2 separate regions of the Homo sapiens genome follow, and region 2 is linked to region 1. Evidence: fine-mapped expression QTL. Tissue or cell type: prefrontal cortex. Region 1 holds a variant in brackets; the other region holds the start of a gene. All regions are shown on one strand. Distances are between the middles of the regions.

Region 1 (5,382 bases):
CTACTTGGGAGGCTGAGGCAGGAGAATGGTGTGAACCCAGGAGGCGGAGCTTGCAGTGAGCTGAGATCGCGCCACTGCACTCCAGCCTGGGCGACAGAGTGAGACTCTGTCTCAAAAAGAAAAAAAAAAAAAAAAGAATCCAAACTGCTTTCCACTAGTGGCTGAACTAGTTTCTGTTTCTACCAGCAGTGTAAAAGCATTCCCTTTTCTCTGCAACCATAACAGCATCTGTTATTTTTTGATGTTTTAACAGCCATTCTGACTGGCGTGAGATGGTATCTCATTGTGGTTTTGATTTGCATTTCTCTAATTAAGTTGAGCTTTTTTTCATATGGTTATTGGCCACATGTATGTCTTCTTTTGAAAGGTGTTCAAGTGCTTTGCCCATTTTTCAATAAGGTTTGATTTTTATTGTAAATTTAAGTTCCTTATAGATGCTGGATATTTGACCTTTGTCAGATGCAGTTTGCAAAAATGTTCCCCCACTTTGTATGTTGTCTGTGCACTCTGTTGATAGTTTCTTTTGCTGTGCAGGAGCTCTTTAGTTTAATTAGATCCCATTTGTCAATGTTTGCTTTTATTGCAATTGCTTTTGGTATCTTCTTAATAAAATCTTTGCCCACTCCTATGTCCAGAATGGTATTGCCTAAGTTGTCTTCCAGGGTTTTTATACTTTGGGGTTTTACATTTAAGTTTTTAATCCATCTTAAGTTAATGTTTGTTAATCTTCTGCACATGGCTAGCCAGTTATCTCAGCACCATTTATTGAATAGGAGTCCTTTCCCCATTGCTTGAGTTAGGTTTGTCGAGAATCAGATAGTTGTAGGTGTGTGGCTTTATTTCTGGGTTCTCTATTCTGTTGCAATGGTCTATGTGCCCGTTTTTGTACCAGTAGCATGCTGTTTTGGTTACTGTAGCCCTGCAGTATAGTTTGAAGTCAGGCAGCATGATGTCTCCAGCTTTCTTATTTTTGCTTAGGATTACCTTGGCTATCTGGACTCTTTTTTCGTTCCACATGAATTTTAAAATAGTTTTTTCTAGTTCTGTGAAGAATCTCAATGGTAGTTTAATAGGAATAGCATTAGATGTATAAATTGCTCTGGGCAGTATGACCATTTTTACAATATTGATGCTTTCTATCCATGAGCATGGAACATTTTTTCATTTGTTTGTGTAATCTTTGATTTCTTTGAGCAGTATTTTGTGCTTCTTGTAGAGAGATCTTTCACCTTCCTAGTTAGCTGTATTCCTAGGTAGTTTGTGTGTTTATTTATTTATTACAACTGGGAATGGGATTGCGTTACTCATTTGGCTCTTGGCTTGACTGTTTTTTTGTGTACAGGAGTGCTAGTAATTTTTACACATTGATTTTGTATCCTGAGAATTTGCTGAAGTTGTTTGTCAGTTTAAGAAGCTTTTATGCCAAGACTATGAAGTTTTATAGATATAGAATCCTGCCATCTGCAAATACGGATAGTTTGACTTCCTCTCTTCCTATTTGGATTACATTTCTTCCTCTTGCCTGACTGCCCTGGCCAGGACTTCCAATACTATGTCAAATAGGAGTGGCGAGAAAGGGCATCCTTGTCTTGTGCCAGTTTTCAGGAAGAATGTTTCCAGGTTTTGCACATTCCATATGATGCTGGCTGTGAGTTTTTCATAGATGACTCTTACTATTTTGAAGTATGTTCCTTCAATACCTAGCTTATTGAGACTTTTTGACATGAAGAATGTTAAATTTTAATGAAAGCCTTTTCTGCTTCATTTCAGATAATCATGTAGTTTTTGTCTTTAGTTCTGTTTATGTGATGAATCACATTTATTGATTTGCATATGATGAACCAACCTTGCATCCCAGGGCTAAAGCCTATTTGATCATGGTAGATAAGATTTTTGCTGTGCTGCTGGATTTCATTTGCCAGTATTTTGTTGAGGATTTTTGTCTCTATGTTCATCAGGGATATTGGCCTGAAGTTTTCTTTTTTGTTGTATCTTTGTTAGGTTTTGGTATCAGGATGATGTTGGCCTCATAAAATGAGTTTTATGGTCTGTTGCATTGGTCTATGTGCCTGTTTTTGTACCAGTACCATGCTGTTTTGGTTACTGTAGCCCTGAAGTATAGTTTGAAGTTGGGCAGTGTGATGTCCCCAGCTTTCTTCTTTTTGCTTAGGAATACCTAAGCATTTTTTTTTTGGAATAGTTTCAGTAGAAGTGGTACCAGCTCTTTGTATATTTGGTAGAATTTGGCTGTGAACTTATCTGGTCCTGGGCTTTTTTGGTTCATAGGCTATTTATTACTGCCTCAATTTCAGAACTCATTACTGGTCTGTTCAGTAATTCAATTTCCTCCTGGTTTAGTCTTAGGAGGGTGTATGTGTCTAGAAATTCATCCATTTCTTCTAGATATTCTAGTTTATGTGCATAGAGGTGTTCATAATATTATTTGATGGTTGTTTGTATTTCTGTGGGGTCAGTGGTAACATCTCCTTGTCATTTCTGATTGTGTTTATTTGAATCTTCTCTCTTTTCTTCTTTATTAGTCTAGCTAATGGTCTATTTTATTAATTTTTCCAAAAAACCAGCTTCTGTGTTCTTTGATCTTCTGGAT[GTTTT/G]TTTGTGTCTGAATCTCCCTCAGTTCAGCTCTGATTTTGGTTATTTCTTGTCTTTTGCTAGCTTTGGAATTTGTTTGCTCTTGGTTCTGTAGTTCTTTTAGTTGTGATGTTAGGTTGTTAACTTGAGATCTTTCTAACTTTTTGATGTGAGCACTTAGTGCTATAAATTCCCTCTTAACACTGCCTTAGCTGTGTCCCAGAGATTCTGGTATGTTGTATCTTTGTTCTCATTAGTTTCAAAGAACTTGATTTCTGCCTTAATTTCATTATTTACCCAAACGTCATTCAGGAGTAGGTTATTCAACTTCCATGTAATTGTATGGTTTTGAGCAAATTTCTGTTTTGGCTTCTAATTTGTGCTGTGGTTTGAGAGATTGTTATGATTTCTGTTCTTTTGCATTTGCTGAGGAGTGTTTTACTTCTGATTACGTGATTGATTTTAGAACATGTGCCATGTGGTGATGAGAAGAATGTATATTCTGTTGTTTTTGGATGGAGAGTTATATAGATGTCTCTCAGGTCCATTTGATCCACTGTTGGGTTCAGGTCCTGAATATCTTTGTTAATTTTCTCTCTTGATGATTGGTCTAATATTTTCAGTGTGGTGTTAAAGACTTCCACTACTATTGTATGGGAGTCTATGTCTCTTTGAAGGTCTCTAAAAACTTGCTTTACAAATCTGCGTGCTCCTGTGTTGGGTACATATATATTTAGGATAGTTAGATCTTCTTGTTGAATTGAATTGAACCTTTTACCATTATGTAATGCCATTTCTTTTTTTTTTTTGCTCTTTTTGGCTTTTGTCAGAAACTAGGATCGTAACCCCTACTTTTTTTCTGTTTTCCATTTGCTTAGTAAATCTTCCTCCATCCTTTTGAGTCCATGTTTGTCACTGCATGTGAGATAGGACTCTTAAAGACAGCATACCAACGGGTTTTGCTTCTTTATTCAGTTTGCCATTCTGTGTCTTTTTTTGCTTTTTAACTTTTATTTTAGTTTTGGGGTACATGTGAAGGTTTGTTACATAGGTAAATGGATGTCACAGGGGTTTGTTGTACATATTATTTCATTACCCAGGTATTAAGCCCAGTATCCAGTAGTTATCTTTTCTGCTCCTCTCCCTCCTCCCACCCTCTCCTTTCAAGTAGATCCCAGTGTCTGTTGTTTCCCTCTTTGTGCTTGTAAGTTCTTACCATTTAGCTCCCACTTATAAGTGAGAACACGCGGTATTTGGTTTTCTGTTCCTGCGTTAGTTTGCTAAGGTTGTGCCTTTTAATTGAGGCATTTAGCCCATTTACATTCAAGGTTGGTATTGATATGTATGGATTTGATCCTGTCATCGTGTCAGCTGGTTATTTTGCAGACTTGTTTATGTGGTTGCTTTACAGTGTCACTGGTCTGTGTACTTCAGTGTATTTTTGTAGTGGGTGATAATGATCTTTCCTTTCTGTATTTAGTGCTACCTTCAGGTGCTCTTGTAAGGCAGGTCTGGTAGTAATGAAATTCCTCAGCATTTGCTTGCCTGAAAATGATCTTATTTCTCCTTCGCTTATGAAGTTTGGTTTGGCTGGATATTAAATTCTGGCTTGGAATTTCTTTTGAGAATGTTGACCATTGGCCCCCAATTGCTTCTGGCTTGTAGGGTTTCTGCTGAGAGGTCTGCTCTTAGTCTAATGATCTTCCCTTTGTAGGTGACCTCATCTTTCTCTCTAAGATGTCTTTAAAATTTTTTGTTTCATTTTGACCTTGTAAAATCTGATGATTATGTGTCTTGCGGATGATCTTCTTCTAACTTATCTAACTAGGGTTCTCTACATTTCCTGAATTTGAATGTTACCCTCTCAAGCTAGGTTGGGTAAGTTCTAATGGATGGTATTCTGAAATGTGTTTTCCAAGTTGCTTCCCTTCTCCCCATGTCTTTCAGGGATGCCTATGAGTCATAGATTTGGTCTCTTTACATAATCCCATATTTCTTGGAGGTTTTGTTCACTCCTTTTCATTCTTTTATTTCTATTCTTGTCTGATTGTCTTGTTTCAGAAATCCAGTCTTCAAACTCTGAGATTCTTTCCTCCACTTGATCTATTCTGCTTTTAATACTTGTGATTGCATTATAAAATTATTGTAGTGTCTTTTTCAGTTCTATCAGGTCAGTTGGTTTTTTTCTATACTGGCTATTTTTGCTGGGCAGCTCCTGCATTGTTTTATCATCGTTCTTAGCTTCCTTGGATGGGTTTCAACATACTCCTGTAGCTCAATGATCTTCGTTTCATGCATATTCTGATTTCTATTTCTGTCATTTGTAGCCATCTTAGTCCAGTTCTGAACCCTTTCTGTATAGGCAATGGGGTAGATTAGAGGAAAAAAGGCACTGTGGCTTTTTGAGTTGTCAGGATTCTTGCACTGATTCTTTCTCATCTTTGTGGGTTTATCCACCTTCAATCTTTGAGGCTGCTGACCTTTCGAGGCTTTTGTTCTCTTTTATCCTATTTGATGACCTTGAGGGTTTGATTATCATATAGGGTAGATTTAGCTGACTGGCTTCATTTCTGAAAGACATTAGGGGACCAATGCTCAGCTCCTGACTTCTGGACTGTATGCTCTAACCCTGGGGATTTGTATTGGGCCCTGACATTGTTCTCTCACTCCATGAGGTTAGAAATCCACTGTGCTGCGAGCACCAGGTGCTTCTGGACCACTGGTCACTACATTCCAATGTGTAGTGTCAGCCAAAGTGTTTCATAGTGCAGTGACAGAGGGATCTGTCCTCAT
Region 2 (5,382 bases), 85 kb after region 1:
AAATATTTAACTGTGTAGTAATAAAGCGTGTAGTTAGAAGTACTCAAAAGATCTTGCAAATTCAGCAGCTACTTCTTCAAAGATAAGCTTGTTTCCTCAAATATAAGGAAAGATAAAAGGTACTTTTTTTTGCAAAAAACAAAACGGTAAAACTTACATTTGTGGATAGATTACAATTTTCATTTTTGAAAATTAATTTTGTCTGGACTTAAAACGTATTTTTTTAAAAAAAATCATTTAACATTAGAGGAAATCTCACCACTAGCAACAAAAATGTTAACTTGAAGCTAGCCACTAGTTTTGTGCTTTTAATAAATTGTATTTTTATGGACTGAAGTAAAGTTTCACTAAACAGGCATGTCATAGATGCAGCTTGATTTGGCTTTCTGTTTAACGGCTTAAGAGTTTTGTTGTCCCGTACTCATAATGTCATATAAACAAAGTAACCTTAGCGATATGTGTTAAGAAATTTTAAAAATGTATTCAAATATATGCAGTTAGGCATCTGAAGGCCTTACTCAATACTCACTGTTAATAGAATGAGATGGTCCCTTCCTCTAAAGACTAGCTGTTAAATATGGATGTGTAGCTTAATAATCATTGAAAAGGTCTAATCCAGCTTTGAGTTGGTGATAATTGAACTTGTTCTGATTTTTAGTAGCTATAACGTTTACACAAAAACTTTTTGTATAAACGTTATAGCTAAGGGAAAATTGAGTGTGCAAGGTCCAACTCGTTTTTGAAGTTCAGTATATGACTCTTTCTTCATAAACATCTCACTGACTCTCCAAGGACTTGCTTGTAACTTCTCCCACATTTGAACCTTGTATATTGTCGTATTTCTACTTGGCATCAAATAAATAATTATAGACTTAACTCTACGCTTACACCCAAACTGGATGGAAGCAAATACCTTCTGGCTATAACTGATGAGTGGTATTTACATAAAGTGAATATCTCAGGTGAAAACTTTTATGTCTGCACTCGAATTTTTTAGCTTACATGATCATAATTATGATCATGATAGTTTTTTGTTTTTGCGTTTGTGTTTGTGGTTACAAGATTTTAGTAGTTGAATTTTAATGGAGTATTTTCAACATAAGTTTCATCATTAGGAAACAAAATTGTGATGATTTCACTTATCCTTAAAGGATCCCCTCTCATGTTCCTCCTTTTCACATCTCCTGAGTTCTTTATCCACTTCTCCCAAGGTAGGTGCCACCTTAGTACTTACTTCATGCTCCTTCCTGCATTATCTGTCATGTTTTGTAGTTTGTCTCCAGGCTCCATCATAATACCTGGAACACAGAGTTGATTAAATATCTGATGGAAGGAATGAAAGAATTCAGTGGATGTTCATGAAAAGTATCTATTAGTATAAATTGAATACAAGGAATGACAAGCAGAAATGTATGTAGTTTGTGTGTAACTCTTGTCAAGCCACCATTTAATGTTTTTATATGACTTTTCTGCAATAAAGAAAACCCCTAAAGTTGTATAGATTGAAAATTAGTGACATTTCACTAACATTCATTTGGTTGATCAATTGACATTGAGCACCCAGTACTATGTGCAAAGTACCAGGAAGAATACAAAGTTAGAAGTTTAAGCAAGGATCAGAACAGATCACACAGCTGGCAAGTGCCTGAGTTGAGATTTGAACCCAGGCAGTATGGTTCTAATTTCACAATTGTTAACTGCTATGAACATGCCTCCCCAGGAATATAGTATAATATAGTTTATAGCTGGTATAATATAATTTATAGTTTTTGCTTATATGGCCAGTTAGCCTTTAGTTGTATTAAATGAAATATTTCTGTACATGTTATATTGTAATCTTAATGATTTACAGTTGATTTTCAAATTATTGCACAGTATTTATATTTCTGAATCACCCTTCCTTCTTCTAGGAAACCACTCATACTTTAGTGGAACGATTAGAAGTCTTCAGTTGTTCATGTGTGGCCCTTCAACATCTTTCTTTCCTAGAAAAATCAAGCGTCTTAGCTTCAGTGTTCTAAGCCCCTCCCCCAGAACGTGTAGGCAGCTGGGTGGAGCCTAAAGCCGAGCCCTCTCCTGTGACCTCGGCTGAAAAGAAGAAGCCAGTGTTTGAGAAAAGCTTCGTGGTCTGTGTTCTCTAGTTGTTCCCTCTTCTCTCTGACATTCCTTTCGTCGTCGCCAGGTCTTGTTTTTCGCTTGATCTCTGGAAAATACTGAAAAGTATTTTACTTTTCAGCTGTCTCCTGCTAAGTGAGCGTACTCCCCCTTTCAGGCTGACTTCCTCATTTCTCCGTTTCCCTGATAAATGGGCGGGGCCTCGGGGAGGTATGGAAACTGAAAAGAAATCATTATTGTAGAAAAACTAAAGAAATTTTTGTTGAGCAGAGGAATTTGGAAATTTTCCTTGCAGATCATTTGGTTGAGAAAACACCTTTACCATAACTTATTTCTTTTAAACTTTGCGGACATTTTTTCTTTTCCTGGGTTCTTAATGCTCCAGTGTTCGGTCTCCTTTCTCTTCCTTCGTTTCCTTTTAGAGGTCTTTCCAGGTAAAGATAAAGCAATCAGAACAATTGAAAATTTATTTTTTTAACTTGTTTTAAGAGCAATTTGAAGAATAGAGGTTAAAAGTAGAAACATACAGAGTAACAATAAATATTGTATTAAGAAAGTCTAAACAGCCAAACTTAAAATTGCATTGCAGGACAGTAATCATCTTGATAATATGCATTATGACTTTTCGGAAACGTTCAGCATATATAATATAAAGGGGAGAAGAGGCAGCCACCATACTCTTTTTAAGAGAACCGGCCTTAAATTAGACTTAAAATATATATATTTTTTTGAGACGGAGTCTTGCTCTGTTGCCAGGCTGGAGTGCAGTGGAGCGATCTCTGCTCACTGCAACCTCCGCCTCCGGGTTCAAGCGATTCTTCTGCCTCAACCTCCCGAGTAGCTGGAACTACAGGCGCGTGCCACCACGCCCAGCTAATTTTTGTATTTTTAGTAGAGACGGGGTTTCACCATGTTCGCCAGGATGGTCTCGATCTCCTGACCTTGTGATCCGCCTGCCTTGGCCTCCCAAAGTGCTGGGATTACAGGTGTGAGCCACCGCGCCCGGCCAAAAAATAATTTTAAACTGTTCAGTTACCTTAAAATAGTAATGCATGTCTGTCATAGTGTAAAATGCAGATAGGTTTTTAAAAAGTGATGAAGTTGAAAGGAAGCCTTCCTCCTTCCCATATCTGCAGGCAGATAATTCCCTTCAGGGAAGCAACCACTGTTACCACTCGTTTCTTGGATGTTTCCTGAGATAGTGTATGCCTCACAAGCATATATGCAAATAAGCTTCCTTTTTATTAAATAAATGCACCTTGCTTTTTTTCACTTCACAACATATTTTAGCATAGATGTTAATTCAGAGCTGCCTCATTCATTTTAGCAGTTATACAGTGTTTCATTGTATGGTATAGCATAATTTTTTTTACCAGTCCTCTACTGATGGGTATTTAAGTTGCTTCCAACATTTTGTTATTATGAACAATGCTACCACAAATATCCTCAACGCTTATGTCATTTTGAATATGTGCAGGTATAGTAACTCCTAGAACTAGACTTATTTTTGTCAAAGGATAGTTGCATTTTTATTTTGATAGATATTGACGTATTGCTCTTCACAGAGGCTATATCAATTATGCCTCACTAGCAATAAATGATTTTTTTCTCAATGCCTTCATTAACACAGCTTGTTGTCAGACTTTCTGATCCTTGCCAATCTAAGTGAAAAATGGTAATTTATTGTGGTTTTAGTTTGCATTTCTGTCATTATAAGTGAACATTTTGCATTTTCTCTCCGTGAACTGGCTGTTCATAATTTTTGGTCACTTTTCTGTTGGAGTGTTGGTCTTTTCCTTATTGATTTCTAGGAGCTCTTTGTGCATTAAAGAAATTAGTTATTTGTATCAAGTATGAATTGCATATACTTTTCCCCAGACTTTTGATTTTGTTAATGATAGGCTTTTGGAGTAAAGGGAACTTGGGAAGGAGGTTTTTGCTTTTTTACTATTATTTATCTATTATTAAAAAAATTCAACTTTTATTTTAGATCCAGGGTATATATGTGCGGGTTTGTCACATGGTTATATTGCATGATGCTGAGATTTGAGGTACGAATGATCCTATCACCTGGGTAGTGAGCATAGTACCCAGTAGTTAGTTTTTCAACCCTTGCCCCTTTCTTCCCTCCCCCCTCTAGTAGTCCCCAGTGTCTGTTGTTGCCATCTTTATGTCCATGAGTACCTACTGTTTAATTTCCACTTATAAGTGAAAATATGTGGTATTTGGTTTTCTGTACTTTCATGAATTTGCTTAGAATAATAGCCTCCAGCTGCATCCATGTTAGTTTTGCTATATTTATGTAGTAAAATGTTTGGGTTTTGGTTTGTATTTTAAAAGGTTTTCTCTACTAATGCAGGGAAAGCCCAGATTTGGGGCTCAGCCCAGGAGAGTTCTTGGCTTCATGCAGGAAAGGATTCACAAGCTAAAGCAAGTTTATCAGAGCAACAAACTACAGGAAAATGGCTGCTCCATAGACAGAGTAGGAGCAGCAGCTCCCATGAATTGTTGGCCAGCTGTATACATACAATTCCCTGGTTATATGCTAAATAAGGGGTGGGTTATTCATGCATTTTCCAGAAAAGTAGGAAGGGTTCCCAGAACTGAGAGTTCCTCCCTTTTTTAAACCATATAAGGTAACTTCTAGGAGTTGCCATGGCATTTGTAAACTGTCATGCCACTGTTGGGAGTTTTTTTTTGCATGCTACTGCATTATAATTAATGTATAATGAGCAGTGAGGGCAACTAGAGATCACTTTTGTTGCCATCTTGGTTTTAGCTGGTTGTGGCCAGTTTCTTTGCTGCATCTTGTTTTGATAAGATTCTGTTTCAATCAGTGGGACCTTGGTGCTCAGAAAACAAGCCCAGCTCATCTCCTACCTTACTACTATAAGATTTTATTTAACTCTCTTTTTATTTCCTGTTTTTATATGATTTTGATTTTTATGTTTAAATCTTTGATTCATCTAAAACTTACTTTGGTATAAGGATCCCACTGAATTAAATTGGACTGCAAAATGAACCAACTGATGTTGGAAACGGGTACCTCATTGATTAGTTACATGAGAACCATCCCAAACTCCTGTAGACTTATTATATATTATTTCCCCAGCACCTGGTATGGTACCTGAAATAAGATGAGTGCTTAATAAATGCTTGATAAACTAAATTGAAGGGAATTTCTGGGCTTATTATCTTTGTTATTAGCCATTGTATTGATCTGATATGTAGTGTTAAATGAGATGATGATACCACGAACACAGTAGA

Alleles and levels. Alleles are on the strand shown, and positions count from the first base shown. SD is a standard deviation of normalised expression in the study named.
With allele G in place of GTTTT in region 1, the expression in prefrontal cortex of the gene that starts at base 2,069 in region 2 is lower (large effect, 1.3 SD a copy in BrainSeq).

Evidence for each region.
Region 2: C4orf33 starts here. The variant in region 1 is fine-mapped to the expression of C4orf33 in prefrontal cortex (BrainSeq, PIP 0.91).

The regions. Positions count from the first base shown.
Region 1 is chr4:129,009,401-129,014,782 of GRCh38, forward strand. All of the region lies in intron 5 of SCLT1 (sodium channel and clathrin linker 1), which reads right to left. Among named protein-coding and RNA genes, the nearest start is that of SCLT1, 81 kb to the right of the region's middle. The variant GTTTT/G (reference allele first, on the strand shown) is at 2,609.
Region 2 is chr4:129,094,084-129,099,465 of GRCh38, forward strand. C4orf33 (chromosome 4 open reading frame 33) reads left to right here and starts at 2,069. Exons shown (of 6, transcript NM_001099783.2): 1 at 2,069-2,126.